Linked DNA regions of Homo sapiens. The protein of the gene in region 1 purifies or fractionates together with the protein of each later gene. This does not show direct contact. Each region holds a gene or a part of one and is shown in the gene's direction. Other genes may lie near its edges.

What was found.
Region 2: the proteins of CFAP97 (region 1) and ANAPC16 purify together in Homo sapiens (affinity purification with mass spectrometry; one large-scale study listed by BioGRID and IntAct). This does not show direct contact.
Region 3: the proteins of CFAP97 (region 1) and ANAPC4 purify together in Homo sapiens (affinity purification with mass spectrometry; one large-scale study listed by BioGRID and IntAct). This does not show direct contact.
Region 4: the proteins of CFAP97 (region 1) and ANAPC1 purify together in Homo sapiens (affinity purification with mass spectrometry; one large-scale study listed by BioGRID and IntAct). This does not show direct contact.

The regions. Positions count from the first base shown.
Region 1 is NC_000004.12:185,157,818-185,163,390, reverse strand, and holds the end of CFAP97 (cilia- and flagella-associated protein 97), read left to right. Parts: intron 1-465; coding exon 466-593; 3' UTR 594-3,726; downstream 3,727-5,573.
Region 2 is NC_000010.11:72,233,012-72,236,360, forward strand, and holds the end of ANAPC16 (anaphase-promoting complex subunit 16), read left to right. Parts: coding exon 1-105; 3' UTR 106-2,849; downstream 2,850-3,349. UniProt on the Homo sapiens protein: Component of the anaphase promoting complex/cyclosome (APC/C), a cell cycle-regulated E3 ubiquitin ligase that controls progression through mitosis and the G1 phase of the cell cycle.
Region 3 is NC_000004.12:25,390,763-25,394,262, forward strand, and holds part of ANAPC4 (anaphase-promoting complex subunit 4), read left to right. Parts: intron 1-148; coding exon 149-253; intron 254-1,575; coding exon 1,576-1,659; intron 1,660-3,042; coding exon 3,043-3,129; intron 3,130-3,500. UniProt on the Homo sapiens protein: Component of the anaphase promoting complex/cyclosome (APC/C), a cell cycle-regulated E3 ubiquitin ligase that controls progression through mitosis and the G1 phase of the cell cycle.
Region 4 is NC_000002.12:111,860,194-111,863,693, reverse strand, and holds part of ANAPC1 (anaphase-promoting complex subunit 1), read left to right. Parts: coding exon 1-19; intron 20-1,095; coding exon 1,096-1,305; intron 1,306-3,500. UniProt on the Homo sapiens protein: Component of the anaphase promoting complex/cyclosome (APC/C), a cell cycle-regulated E3 ubiquitin ligase that controls progression through mitosis and the G1 phase of the cell cycle.

The DNA.
Region 1 (5,573 bases):
ACCGCCCGATGCCACAACTTCCCAGCGCCCGCCCTCGTGAGTCTTCAACTCTCAAGACTAGTAGTTCCATTTATTCCTTCTCCAAACCTTGCTTCCGTGGTATAGTGACTAAGAAAGGGTCTTATTTTAGTAACTCATACTTAGCATTGTCCCTAAATGTAGTAAGTTATTTGTTGATTAGATATATAAATGGTTATACAAAGTCATTTTTTTCACGTGAATTATTTGAGAAGCTTTTAAAAATGTTTGTTTTCCACGCCAATCCAGTGAATCAAAATCCCCTGGTGTGGCATCTGGATATGTTTGTTATTATATTTTTTAACTTCCACAGGGAATTCTGAAGTGCATCCTAGTCGAGAATCATAGCATTAGACTATTAGACACACATAGAATGTGGAAGAAAAACTAGTCTGGACTTCAAGTGAGGAGAAGTTTCTCAGATATTTCTTCTTTTTATATTTTCAGGAGCTTCCAGGACATCCAGTGCTACGAGTGGTCTCAGTTGTAGGAGTGAGCGATCAGCGGTTGACCCCTCCAGTGGCCACCCTCGAAGAAGACCTAAACCCCCTAATGTCCGTACAGCTTGGTTATAAAACACTTTTTTACTTTAAACATTGTTCACACAACTTTTCTTGAAGTGCTCGTGCATATTCCTATAATTCTCTGTGTAAACATCTAGAATACCGTTTTAGCAATTGAAGGTGTACAACAGTGAGTTGTAATGTATTGTTATTCAGTGCAAAATTATTGTCAAAAAACGATTTAATGTAAAAAGTGTTTCCTGAGGATGTATTTATATGAGATGTATGTGTTCTTAATAGAGAAATAGTGGTATGCATGTGTATCTTCTAATTATTCAGTTGTCATGCTGTCAAAATAGTAGTGATAGTATCATTGCATGTCGTACCCAAGATGGTCACTATAGTTTTCAATTTGTGTTATTTTCATTTCTTTATAAGTGTTATACCATGAGCTCAGCTCCTAAATTTGGCTGGCTTTGTTTTTCATTTGCTTTAGAACTTATGTGGCATGACATAGCTCGATTGTATGAGATTTAACACTTATTATGAAACAAATCTTGAAATTTGTTTTCACTGGTAGAGCTGATCTAGATTTGATGAGCAGATTGAGAGACGCTTCTATTGGAGCAATTCTTGTAATTCACCAGAGGTATCTAGTTGTTGTATAAGTGCACTGAGTTAGATCTTAAAAGTTTGATCAATCATTCCAAACCATTTCAAATATGAATATTAGAAAGTTCAACTTAGAAGCTTCCCTTTTGTGTTTTCATGCATTCAGGTAAAGTCCTATTTATGACTCTTAGAAATGAGGTAGGTTTTAGAGCTAGTCTTCTAACTCGTGAATAGTTTAAGGACCACATCAGTTGCAAACCAAGTATTTGTTGAATCAGTAAAATGGCACTATCAGCATGAAGAGCCGAGAAGCAGATCCTGAGGTGTGTCGGACAGTGTTTTAGGTAATTCAGTATTTATTATGTTATTAGAGAAGACTTAGCGTAAGAAAGAAATGCTTTAGAAATTCCAGCAAGTATTTATAAGGCCTGAAAAAACTAAAATTTGAACAAAAAGGGAAATAAATCACACATTTGTTGAGGCTGCTGCTTTAAGTATTAGCTAATTTTCTTGTTTTGGTTTACTTTGATTTATTTGATTGAACCCTGGAAGTATTATTTTTACCAGTCCCACATTTAAAGACCTAGTAATCTTGATGGAATTGGTAATGGCAGATAGGGTTTAATGTTGTTGACTTTTCAAATTAGAATTTTTTTTCTATGAAACTTAGGCTTTTATATAACAAAGTATGTTATCTCATTGTTACCGCCGTTTTTCACTACTAGCCTTTTCAGTATGCCCTTAAAATGTATTGGAAAGGTTCCATGTTAAATGACAAATATCTTTTTCAGTATGAATTTTTGATCTGTAGCCACAATAAGATTTTCATTTTTCAGTGCTCAGGCTCTGTAGCATGTATGCTGAATGCTTTTTTCCTTAGCACCTTTAACAGTAAGGTGTTACTGCATTTTACAAAACATCAATTCAACATGTCTTGGATTTAGTTTGTATTCATAGATTTTGTTAAGGATCAGGCCTGTGAACATGGGCACAGTGAGGTTAAATAATTCACCTGGCCACAACCTGGCTTTGAGGTTCTGCTTTTGGGGGCCATAATTTTCATTCAATGTTATTCGATGCTCTGTTCTGGTGAACAAGTTACTATACCTGCTGTGTATATAAGCTTGAGCTATACTAAACCAAGGCTTTATTTTCTTTTGTTTTTTAACTTACTGTACTTTTACTGTTTATATAACCTATATTTCAAGAGAGAGAAGATAATGCTGAATTTTAAATTTAGCATTTGAACATCTGTCCAATAGTGAATTAATCAGTTTTTTTAAAATTGATTTTTAAGTTGTTCCAGAAAAAAATATATATATATGTTTTATATATATAATCTTTTTATATATATAAAAAATCTTTTTTATAAATTTTATTTTAAAAATCTTTTAAAAAAGATTTTTATATATATATAAAGATTATATATTTATATATAGTCTTTTCTGTTCATAATGGCATTAGTCTCTGAGTACATTTTATATTATCTTTGTTGCCACATGTCAGGATACAACACAATAGTTTTATAAATAACAACTGTACTTTGATTTTAGGTACTAATTTAATGCTTTAGTTTTTACTACTTTGAAAGGGGAGGTTCATCTAAGTATTACTGATAACAGGGATCCAACTTAAAGTAAAAGTTGGAAAGGGCAAGAGTCTTTTAAGCGGAACTTCAATTCTGTTGTCATGGTTACTTATATATAATGAATATAAATAGACAAATAGGACTTGGAAAATGTGGTATATTCTAAGTCAAGATGCTATGAAGTTGTTATAGTTTAAGGGACATTCTTAAGAAGGAATTACTTAAGTACATTACTCTTCTCATTTCAAGGACATGAAAAAGTAAAGGATGGTCTGGCACTATTTTATTTTATTTTTTTTTTGACTTGTACTGAATATATGTACTTTGAAGATTTACATCTATAACTAGAAAGTATGCTAATCCGAGGTCTGGTTATTAGGCCAGATTCTTGTTCAGTTATTTTTTAAACTAATGTTGCCTCCTTTTTAGTAAGATTCTACGAAAGTTTTTTAACTATTAAAGTTATTTCTTAAGGGGTAGCTCTTATACTTCCTCTGCTCTCTTTTTCAGTTTCCATAAAAAGCTGTTTTCTTAGCTATTACTCCAAATAAAGTTCTTTGGTTTGCTTAAAAATGTAGTGTAATGCAGTTGTTTTCTCTCCGCTAACCTGAGTGTCCACAGTAGATATCGAGACAGCTTTAGGAAGGTGACGGTCATGGGTAAGTGACGGCTGTGCCTGTCATCTTCAGATTCTTCAAATACTGCAAACTATGAAACATGTTAAGACCAATATAAACCCAAAGATGTGAGTTGATTATACTTTAATAATTACATTCATAAAAAGTTTACTATCTTCAATGCCAAAAAAGTCTTAACCTATAAATGATTATATACAATCTTAGAAAATGTGCTTAACAGTTATGGCTTCTTTATTTCTATGAGGAAAGATTAGTAAGAAACTTAAAATTAACATCCTTTTAAGATTTTCTGTTCCATTTTAATGTATTTTAGGCATTTAGAACTAGCCTGGCATAATGAAGAAAGAAATAAAAGAATTAAAGATAACTGAGTTTTGATCCTATGTTTATCTCTAAAATGGGCTGTCTTGTTCCAATTTTCAAAATTAGAATAATTTTTACGTGCCTTACAAGACCAAGAATTAGTAGGAATAAAGTTGGAAGGATGATGTCAGTTATTTCTGTCTTTGAAAGTATTTACATGGAAAAGAGTTTGCTTAAAATTATATTCTTAATCAGAATTTCTTTAAACTACATCATCTAATTGCTTCTGTAAAATTATTATGGTACTACAATACAGTGGACACTCTTACAGCTTAAAGAAATGGGCTTGTTGTTGTTGTTGTTGTTTGTATTTTTGAGATGGAGTCTGGCTCTGTCCCCCAGGCTGGAGTGCAGTGGCACGATCTTGGCTCACTGCAACCTCCGCTTCCCAGGTTCAAGCGATTCTCCTGCCTCAGCCTCCTGAGTAGCTGGGACTACAGGCACACACCATCATGCCCGGCTAATTTTTTGTATTTCTAGTAGCGATGGGGTTTCGCCATGTTGGCCAGGCTGGTCTCGAACTCCTGACCTCAAGTGATCCGCCCGCCTCAGCCTCCCAAAGTGTTGGGATTACAGGTGTGAGCCACCGCGCCCGGCCAGGAAATATTTTTTAAAAGGAGTCATGTATGTCATGTACATTGATGTACATGAAATGTACGTCAACATTTCATATGTATTCTATATAATAAACACACTAAAGCTTGCTGCAAAACATCAGTTTAGGAATTTTTTATGAGGGTTTAATAAAACTAGCGCCATTGGAATAAATTCCCGAGTAGCCCCTGCAGTAGCGTATCTGAGCTCTCAACAGCAAAGAGCAAGAATGCTAGAGCAAATAGGATTGTGTTATGGCAGAAAATTTTATTTGATTTTTCAGTTCTGGTGATGGATTTTTAATTCATTTACAGATATCTCTGGAGCCACCATAATAGACTCTTAAGATTCTGTGCTTCCATTTCAAAATTTAGTTGGTAAATCCAGGTAAGTTGCACTATTTGCCCTAGATGACATTTGTGAGGTTTAACTGTTTTACAAAATAAAACTTAGGAGGTAACATCATTATTTTACTATAATGAGACAGGGTTTTTTCACATGGCTCTAATCCACAATTATAAGATAGTAAAAGAATTTGAGGCCGGGTACGGTGGCTCACTCCTGTAATCCTAGCACTTTGGGAGGCCGAGGCGGGCAGATCACGAGGTCAGCAGTTCGAGACCAGCCTGGCCAATATGGTAAAACCCTGTCTCTACTAAAAATATAGAAATTAGCCACACATGGTGGTGCGTGCCTGTAGTCCCAGCTACTTGGGAGGCTGAGGCAGCAGAATTGCTTGAACCCAGGAGGCAGAGGTTGTAGTGAGCTGAGATCACACCACTGCACTCCAGCTTGGGTGACAGAGCGAGACTCTGTCTCAAAAAAAAAGAATTTGAAGAGTCACCAAAAAATGATTAAAAACTATGGTGCTAAATTCTTACAGGATATATATTACAATGAGAGTCTTCACCAAAAAACCACACATCACATTTATTTCATACATTTTGGAATTATAGCTAGTCTCCAAAGTTTGGAGGGTGCTTTGTTCTTGATTTGATTCTGAGAATCTGTTTTATGAAGAACATATGCAGCATTAAGCAAATATATCTGCTTCCCACATAGTTACCTATACAAACTAGAAAAATCTAATTCTACCATTAACTACGGTCTTCTCTTTTAACATTTGAGTGTAGTTTTGCCTGTTTTTGAGTTTCATATAAATGGGAGTATGTTCTCGTGTATGACTTTTTAGCTCAACATCTTTATGTTTGTGAGATTCTTTGATATTGTTGCATGTAGCTAGAATTGGTTCGTGTT
Region 2 (3,349 bases), on another chromosome or scaffold:
GCTCGGATGGAAAAACTAGCTGGTTTGGTAGAAGAGCTGGAGGCTGACGAGTGGCGGTTTAAGCCCATCGAGCAGCTGCTGGGATTCACCCCCTCTTCAGGTTGATACTGCCTGGATGGTCACCTCTGGTGCGCAGCAAGTGCAAAGCCAGTGGGGGACTTTCTCACAGCTTACATAGCCATCCAGAGATCCACAGCTACGTCACTGAATTGTTAATGCACATTTGTACTTGGTTTCTCTGTATCTATTCACAGGCAACAAATACTTATATGTGTGATCTTTCAGGGAATGTTTTGTTTATTTGTTTTTAAAAGTATTGGGAATCAGATTAAGACAATCAGTTTCAGAGAACCAGGAGGTTTGGGGTTAAGAGATACTCAAAAATTTTCACAAGCCAAGTAGGGCATATATCAGATTTGGCCAACTGAATGGCGTCTGTCCTGTCATCCATATGGTGCCTGGAAATATTTACCAGTCAAGGTCAAGGTCAGCATCTGTGGTTAAAAATATAGCATTCTGACCTAAAAAAGTTATTTTGCAGATGAATGTGTTTTCAACTCAGGACCTATCCAAATGAGGAATTTTTAAATATTCTTTTTTTTTTCCTATTTTTAGACATCAATTCTATAGATTCTGACTTTTTCTAACCTCTTATAGACATGCCAAATGCTGGCAAAAAGAAGTGCTTTTTGGATATGGCAGCACTTGTAAAAATAAAGCAGTAAGCAAAATCCTTTTAAACACAGAAATCCTGAGTTCTTCTCATTGGTGGACTCAAGCAATTCTGTAGCAAATAAATCCTTTGAAAGAGCTCCAAATTGGTGGCATTATCCTTTCAAAATCTCAGGGATTTGGGATGAAGTGAAGAGGTCAAATTACTTTTTAGAAGAAGGGAATCTAAAAACCATCTCTCCTAAACAAATGGTAGACTGGCTTTACTTAAGGGATATTTGTCTTTATAGGAGTACATAAATTTATCTTAATGATATTTAAGTAGTTTTTTTTTTTTTTTGAGACGAAGTTTTGCTCTTGTTGCCCAGGCTGTATCGCAATGGCGCGATCTCTGCTCACTGCAACATCCACCTCCCAGGTTCAAGCAATTCTCCTGCCTCAGCCTCCCAAGTAGCTGGGATTACAGGCACCCGCCACCACACCCAGCTAATTTTTTGTATATTTAGTAGAGACGGGGTTTCACCATGTTGACCAGGCTAGTCTCGAACTTCTGACCTCAGGTGATCCACCTGCCTCAGCCTCCCAAATTGCTGGGATTACAGGCGTGAGCCACCTTGCCCAGCCAATTTTTTTTTAAAGAGACATGGTCTTGCTATGTTGCCCAGGTTGGTCTTGAACTCCTGGCCTCAAGAGATCCCCCCAACCTTGGCCTCCAAAGTGCTGGGATTACAGGCATGAGCCACCGCGCCTGGCCTCAAGTAAGTTTTTATACCATGATAGGGGAAAACCTGGAAGGCTAAGAGATGTGCTGTTTTCCTTCATGGGACCCCACTTTCCACAGTAAACAACTGGTATAATCATTTATTACGTTGTATGCAAATTTTGCCTTAGACAACATTTGTCTGGTTCCTTATTAATAACTTGCATCTGATCTGCTTAGAGTTGCTTAATTATAAGTAAATATAATCCCAGTAGCATTTAGCCTTAATCTCAAGAGTTCAAAATGTTTAACACATTCTACCTGACGGGAGGTGGTGACCTCATTCAGTCGGTTAAGAGCCTGAGCCCTGTGAAGTTAAACACCTGCTCATGGTCACATAGCCCAGGCAGAAGAAAATCTCGGACTTGGAATAGATCCCAGTTGCCTGATAATTCATCTCATTATTGCCTCTAAAGCAAATTGGAGACTGGGCACAGTGGCTCCCACCTTTAATCCCAGCACCTGGGGAGGCTGAGGTGAGTGGATCACTAGAGGTCAGGAGTTCAAGACCAGTCTGGCCGACATGGTGAAACTCAGTCTCTATTGAAAATACAAAAATTAGCTCAGTGTGGTGGCACACACTTGTAATCCCAGCTACTCAGGAGGCTGAGGCATGAGAATCGCTTAAACCCAGGAGGCGGAGGTTGCAGTGAGCTGAGATCACACCATTGCACTCTAGTCTGGGTGACAGAGCGAGACTCTGTCTCAAAAAAAAAAAAATAAAGCCGGGCGTGGTGGCTCACGCCTGTAATCCCGGCACTTTGGGAGGCTGAGGCAGGCGGATTGCCTGAGATCGGGAGTTCGAGACCAGCCTGGCCAACATGGTGAAACCTTGTCTCTACTAAAACTACAAAAAAAATTAGCCAGGCGTGGTGGCGGGCGCCTGTAATCCCAGCTACTCAGGAGGCTGAGGCAGCAGAATCGTTTGAACCCGGGAGGCGGAGGTTGCAGTGAGTGGAGATCGTGCCTGTGTGCTCCAGCCTGAGCAACAAGAGCGAAACTGTCTCAAAAAAAAGAAGAAAATAAATAAATAAAAATCAGAGCACAAGAAGTACCAGTCCACCAACTCACATTTTCTATATTAATAATTCTTAACTAAAAGAAGTTCCATATTCGACAGCATTTTAGTTTTTTAATAGTACTTATTAGCATCAACCATCTTGATAATCACCAAGGGAAAAATTAAAAATACCTAGACTGCAATAAACCTTTAAATTGGATTTTCAGTGAGAATTTAGAAGCAATCACTACCTTTCTCGTTTCATTTGTGTAACCATGCAGCATAGGCACTGTGTTACATCATCTTTACGCTTTGGTATTTGAACTTATTACAGAATTTTTTCTCTAAATTGGATGTTTCTTTATATGACCTTGGAAACTGAAGTGATCTTAGCATTAAACAAAAATGCTTTTTGAAGCACCTTTCTCATTGATCACTTAGCTGCTATTTTAGTCTTACCAAGAATAAGACTCTCACAATTTTTTAAAGAGAGTACCTCCCTCTCTATACCTTTTTGTCAGTCATTATGTTGCATCGTCCACAACGCCTGTTACTATGCTTTGGGCTCAAAGATGGTCCCAGTTGCTGATCTGTCATCTGTCTTCTCTTGTGCCAGTCACTCACAGGCATGAATTATAATCCTCTGAATAACACAGCAAGATACGTAATACCCCCTAATATAGAAAAGGAACTTGAAGCTCAGAGCAAGTGTCACTTGCCAAGGCTGCACAGCTAAGTCAATGGCCAAATCTGGATTTAAGTTCAACTCAGCCAGAATCCAAAGCAGCTTCTTTTAGATTCACTATGCCACATCCCACCAAACCCAACCCAGCACATTGTATTAGGAAAAATCCTAAAACTTTTGATTAAATGGTAAAAGGAAGTAACTACCTGGAGAAAATAAGGCTTCCGCTACC
Region 3 (3,500 bases), about 160 Mb from region 1:
ACACCTACCTTCATCTGCTACATGTGTGTGGCTGGAGCTGGGAATTTGTTTCTGCTTTTTAAAGCTCTGAGTTTTTGCTTTCTGCATGATAATCAGCTTCAACCTAGCAGTGATACTAAATATACTAAGGGGTTTGACTCTTTTACAGATTGCTGGTACTTGTCTTGCATTATGTTTATCAAGTGATTTGAAATCATTATCAGTGGTCACAGAAGTCTCTACCAATGGTGCTTCAGAAGTTTCATACTTTCAGGTGAGTATTGGAACTTGATAACGGTAGAGAGTAAATATGTATTTAACAGGTTTTATATAGGTTTTTATCCACATCTCACTGTATTGTAATGATCATTAAAATAATGCAAAAAAATCGACTTGGAATTTCTACATCCTAATATACTGAGTGTTATTATAGTGAATACCATATTATTCTTCCCATGCTCCAATACAGTTTTCATAAAAAGTGTTTTGGTGGTCTATTAATGACCATATTAATTTGTTGCTATTCCAGTTTGACTTTGTACCAAGTGTTTGCTTAGGACTCTGTCCCTGATAATAACAAAGGTTAATATTTATTGATTGTTTAATATGTGCCATATGCTGAATGCTTCAGAACAGTTGATTTGAATCTTCACAGCATCATAATAGGCAGATACTGTTATTATCCCCATTTTATAGGTAAGTACATGGACACACAAATACTTCAGAACTTGCTTGATGTCACAGGATGGGAAAGTGATGCTAGACAATCTGGCTGCATAATCTGTGCTCTTAACTAGCACATTGCATCTTGTGTAAAATGATCACTTAATATTGGGAAAATGCTTTATTGCGTGCTGTCTGCATTGTAGATTAAGGAAGCTAACTGGGCTCCCATAGAGTATTTAGATCATAGCCTTGCCAAGAAATCGAAAATTTTCATCTTAAATATCCCAGCCACTTAAGTATGTGTGAACTCTCAAACAAAAGTAGAACAAAAAAGATGCAAGATGCAATGTGTGTGATGTCTTCCAACATTCTCTTTGTATTCAGAGCATCAGAGAACTCTTGGTTTACTGTTCACTATGGTAATGGTTGTTCATATTTGCTCATCTTCTTAAGGTTATGTGAAACTATGATCACCAGGATTGCATTTGGATTATAATAAAATGATTCACTACTACTGTGAAGTTGGTAACAGATCATTTTTAATGACAAATTTATTAAGATACAATTCATATACCATTGATAGATATTTTCCCAATATTTATCAGTAGCCTTTAATTCCTTATACTTCCTTTAAGTTTTTACATATATTTGTGATTTAAACATTTCTTTGTAATACTGTTTCAAAATAGGTTATATTACATTTATTCTATCTACACAGGAGGGGTTGATAACCCAGAGAGAGTGATTTGTGTATGGTTATGTGTAGGTTAGGAGATCCTAAGGCTATGTGCTGTTTCCAAACCGTTCTGCTCAAAGAGGGCACAATTCTGACATAGTCTTTCTGATACGTAGTTTGACCCACACTCTAAATTACAGACTTTGCAGCAAGTGCATCTGATGATGACTCACTTTACTCTTTTGATTTTACAGCTTGAAACTAATCTGTTGTACTCTTTCTTACCTGAAGTAACTCGGATGGCCAGAAAGTTTACTCATATTTCAGCTCTGTTACAGGTATTTATTTAGAGCTTGTTTTATGTGAATATTTATTATCGGCTTCTAAAGTTCTGTAAATAAAAAGCTTCAAAATTTTGTTTTGTAAAGCTTTCTGAAGTAGAGGTATCTAGTCTGATAGATGATCTTATAAGGTCCATTAAAGCAGGAAAAGGACATTTAATTGAGAACCTACTTTCACCGCACCCTATTTTCCACCTCCAAAAGAGTTTAAATCTTTTAAAATACTCCCATAAATAAAATACCATTTACATTATAAAGTATTGTGGGAAAAACAGTCTTCACATGAGTTTACATTTGTTCATAATAAACCCACCCCAAATTACCTCCCAATTCTGTAGGTTGGTGATTTAGGCTCAGCTTAGCCAAGATGTTTGGGTGACCTGGAGAAGGTTCAGCTGATCTTGACTAGACTTGGTCATGCCAGCTGGTATGTGTCCCTTGGCTGTGATTCCTTGTCTCTACTCCACATCCTTCATACTCCAGCGAGCCAGCACAGGCTTGTCCACATGGTGGTGGTAACGGGGCATCGAGGGTGCAAGTGGAAGTGTACAAAGACTTTTGAGGCCCTGGAGTCAACAGTGTTATTTCTGCTGCATTCCGTTAGTCAAAGCGAGACTCAAGGGCTGAAGAAATGGACTCTGCATCTGACTGGAGGGGCTACAAAAGATTGTGGCCATGTTTTTCATTCTACCACAGTCATTAATTTATTTGATATTAAAGGTTTCTAGAGATCAGTATCTTTTTAAAATTGAATAATTGACCAAACCAGTATTTTGACAGTTAGTGTAGATAAGACATATCTTATATAAAAAGCTTGGAGATATTTGTTTCACCAGATAAAAATTTAAGAATGTTTTATTATGAAATTCTAAGAATCAATGGAATGTTTCGTAGTTAAGTGATGACCAAGCTGTTGTCTTTTTCTCCATCTTAACTGAGTTAAAAGAGTGATTGAGGCTGGGCACAGTGGCGCACACCTATAATCCCAGCACTTTGGGAGGCTGAGGCAGGTGGATCACTTGAGGCTTGGAGTTCGAGACCAGCCTGGCCAACATGGTAAAGCCCCGTCTCTACTAAAAATACAAAAATTAGCTGGGCATGGTGACGCACGCATATAATACCAGCTACTTGGGAGGCTGAGGCAGGAGAATCGCTTGAACCTGGGAGGCAGAGGTTGCAGTGAGCCAAGATGGCGTCACTGCACTCCAGCCTGGACGACAGAGCAAGACTCTGTCTCGATAAATAAATAATAAAAATAAAACAGTGATTGAAAGTAAATTCTAGATTTCTTTGAGACACTTGATCATAAGCACATATTATTTAGATAGCAAGTTGGTTTAAATATTTTTTACCATTTCAATTTTTCTTTTTTGCTAATAGTATATAAATTTGTCACTAACATGTATGTGTGAAGCATGGGAAGAAATACTAATGCAGATGGATTCTCGTCTCACCAAGTTTGTGCAGGTAAAGCAGCTGAAGTTTCCCATGGAGAGAGTTAAAGAATGCATGATGTATGTCTTTACCTTGAGGTACATGAGAAAAATCAGTTTGATTCATAAAAGGCTAAGATCATAATTTCTTTCAAATGGCTTCGTCTGACTTCAAACTGCTTCCTCAGATTTGCCAAAAGGGCTCTTTTCCCATTGATACAACTTAAGTGGGGACAGGATTGTGAAGTGGAGCTGGTGGGGCTTTGGCAATAAGGGCAGGTGTTAGAACAGCTGATTGGCTATCTTCTAGTCACTGATGTTCAGATGATCACTTTATGGATTTGATGGAAGTCTAAGGCAAGGAAAGGGAGTCATGCTCCTATAATTTTGAATAAATATGCTTAT
Region 4 (3,500 bases), on another chromosome or scaffold:
CCAACATGGCAGCTCTAAGGTATAAGGGTTTCCTGGTTTTTCTTTCTAAGCTTTCTGTTTTGTTTTGAAGGATTTAGAATTTCTGTTGACAGCTGTTTTTAGGGGAAATATATTTAGGGGAGATGTTTTTTAGGGGAAATAGCCATTATCCCAATTGAGCCTTTTTTTTTTTTTTTTTTTTTGAGACGGAGTCTTGCTGTGTCACCCAGGCTGGTGTGCAGTGGCGCAATCTTGACTCACTGCAAACTCTGCCTCCCGGGTTCATGCCATTCTCCTGCCTCAGCCTCCAGCTGGGACTACAGGCGCCTGCCACCATGCCTGGCTGAGTTTTTTTTTTTTTTGTATTTTTAGTAGAGATGGGGTTTCACCGTGTTAGCCAGGATGGTCTCGATCTCCTGACCTTGTGATCTGCCTGCCTTGGCCTCCCAAAGTGCGGGGATTACAGGCGTGAGCCACCGTGCTCAGCCCTGAGCCACTTTTACTAAGATTTCTAAGTTTACCATGTCACATTCTTTCCTGAGTCATATTTTGAAGCTGCCTATGCTTGACCTAAGGTTAGTTGCCTCATTTCTACCACTATGTGGGCAACAGTTTGATGAATATTAATTCCCAAAATACTGTGGCACTATTTTATTTTTGCCTTAATTTATGTTAGTTTTTCTTTTTTTTTTACTTGTTATTTGATATGTAAATGTATCTATTTCTCTATATAGATATATATTTAAATGACCAGATATGTATATCTGGTGCTACAGGGACATTGTTTTGTTGATAAATATATATGTCTGACTATACAGGGACATAGTTTAGAGCTTTTTGAATAATCATTCATTTTCCGAAAAAGAAGATGATCTAAGTTTTAGTTGTAAAAGATGAGTTCTTCTAATAATAATTCTAAATCTTTAGAATATAGTAAAGCACATTGACATGAACCATTTAAATAGCTACTCCTTTTTGAAAAATTTTAATTTCTGACCTGGATTATGCCATGAATGCTCTTCTGTCTGTGGAATTTTTGGAAGTGTCATTGGAGTGTGTGTCATATAAGCCTGCCTTGCTAACTGTGATGTACTCTCTCCTCTGTTTATTTTGCAGTCGTGCTCATTCTCCTGCGTTAGGAGTGCACTCTTTTTCAGGGGTGCAAAGGTTCAACATTTCAAGCCATAATCAGTCTCCAAAGAGACATAGTATTTCTCATTCTCCAAATAGTAATTCTAATGGCTCCTTTCTTGCACCAGAAACGGAGCCAATTGTTCCTGAACTGTGTATTGACCATTTGTGGACAGAAACGATTACTAATATAAGGTTTGTTATATATATTATTATATTCAAAGAAAAATGTTGCTGAAAGTCTTGGGAAATATATGGCATTTTGTTTAAAGTTTCCTTTTAATGTGATCAGTTATTAATATATGTAAAAATATATAGAGATATGTATTAAGGCCACCTCAGTTTCAGTAGAGGATATTAATGATATTAAAGTGATCATAGGCTGGACGTGGTGGTTCATGCCTGTAATCCCAGCACTTTGGGAGGCTGAAGCTGGTAGATCACTTGAGCCTAGGAGTTCGAGACCAGCCTGGCCAACATTGTGAAACCCTGTCTCTACTAAAAATACAAAAATTAACTGGGTGTGGTGGTGCATACTTGTAATCCCAGCTACTCAGGTGGCTGAGGCAGAATTGCTTGAACCCAGGAGGCTGAGCTTGCAGTGAGCTGAGATCGTGCCACTGCACTCCAGCCTGGGTGACAGAGTGAGACTATCTCAAAAAAAAAAAGTCATCATAAAAATATTATTTTGTCATCTGATATTTCTTCCTTTATAGTAATAATCTCTCATTTTTCGGGTGTTTTTTGTTCTGGGGAGAAACAGTTAATTTCCATCCGTGAGGAAATGTGGGGTTTTAGCACGTTTCCTAAGTTTTATGTTCATGTTAGTTGAGTGCCAGCTTTACTTTTTGGGAAACATAGCTTAGATCTCTGTTCTGGGTGACCTTTCTTCTTTTATATTCTCTTTAATAATTCACGTGTTAATTTATATGCCAATGTGTGTGCTAGTTAACAGTCTAATAAGTCACTGTCCCTGTCCTCAAAAGAGGCAGATAGCTGAAGGATGGTGACACAGGAGGGACTACTTTTGCTGGTAGGGCTTTGAAAGACGAATAGGTATTCGCTAGGCAGGGAAGTTGAGAAAGACCACAGACGGCAGCTGGGATCAGAACAAAAGTTCTGGTGAGTGCGTGGTGTATTTAGGGAATTACAAGTACTTCCACTCTGGTTTTTGCAGAGGGGAGGGAAAAGGCTAATGAAGAGGAGGCTTCCTAGGCGCAGTGGCTCACACCTGTAATCACTCACTTTGGGAGGCTGAGGCAGATGGATCACTTGAGCTCAGGAGTTCAAGACCAACCTGCCCAAAATGGTGAAACCCCATGTCTACTACAAATACAAAAATTAGCCAGGCATGATGGCGTGCATCTGTAGTCCCAGCTACTCTGGAGGCTGAGGTGAGAGAGTCATTTGAACCTGGGAGTTGGAGGTTGCAGTGAGCCAAGAGCACACTACTGCACTCCAGCTTGGGCAACAGAGTGAGACTGTCTGAAAAAGAAAAAAAGGAGGCTTGAGAGATTACTGATTGCCCTTTAGGCCTCTGGTATGTTTGATGACAGCGGTAAGAAGGCACTTTATAAGTGTGTCGGAAGTTTGGGAAAGAGCAGAACAATAAATGTGGAATTGTCAGCTTATAGGTGGTGATTGAGGTAAGAGAATTAGATTAGAATTGAAGAATTATTGTATTCAATAATTGTGTGTACATGTAGTATATAGGCCTTTTCCCAAGGAGAGGGTTTTAACATTCCTTAGATTCTCAAAGGGATTTGTGGCCTCCAAATAGTTAAAATCCAGTGGTGTAGAATGAGAAGAGGGCTAGGAACTGAAGTCCTGGAAACTTAAGATTTGGGGAATGGAAAGAGACAAAGCTGGCACAGAGAGACAAAGCAAAAGAGGTCAGATGGGAGAAGCAGCAGGAAATACAGAATACAAAAAAGAACATTTCAAGAATACAGAGATGCCAGTATTGCCAGGTACTGGTGAAGTGTGGCCCTGAGAGTTGAACCCAGAGAGGAGGTACCTGGGTGGCAGTGGGTTCCTTGGTGACCTTGGCCAGAGCATTTTAAGCTGGGAGGGTGGCGGGGGAAAGTGGGGTAGAAAAAGTAAATGGGGACTGAGGAAATGAACATAGGCATACAGACTCTTTAAGGAGTTTGCCTTTGAATAGGAATGAAGATACAAAATTAGAGGGAGTCTTGGTCAAGGAGAGTTTTGTTTTTGCTGAACTATAATAAAATTAGTTTTCATGACATCTTGCCCCAGTATTTTCTTTTTCTTTTTTTTTGAAACAGGGTCTCACTCTGTCACCCAGGTTGGAGTACAGTGAGTGACTCAATCACAGCTCACTGCAGCCTTGGCCTTCTGGGCTCAGGTGATTCCCCAACCTCAGCCTC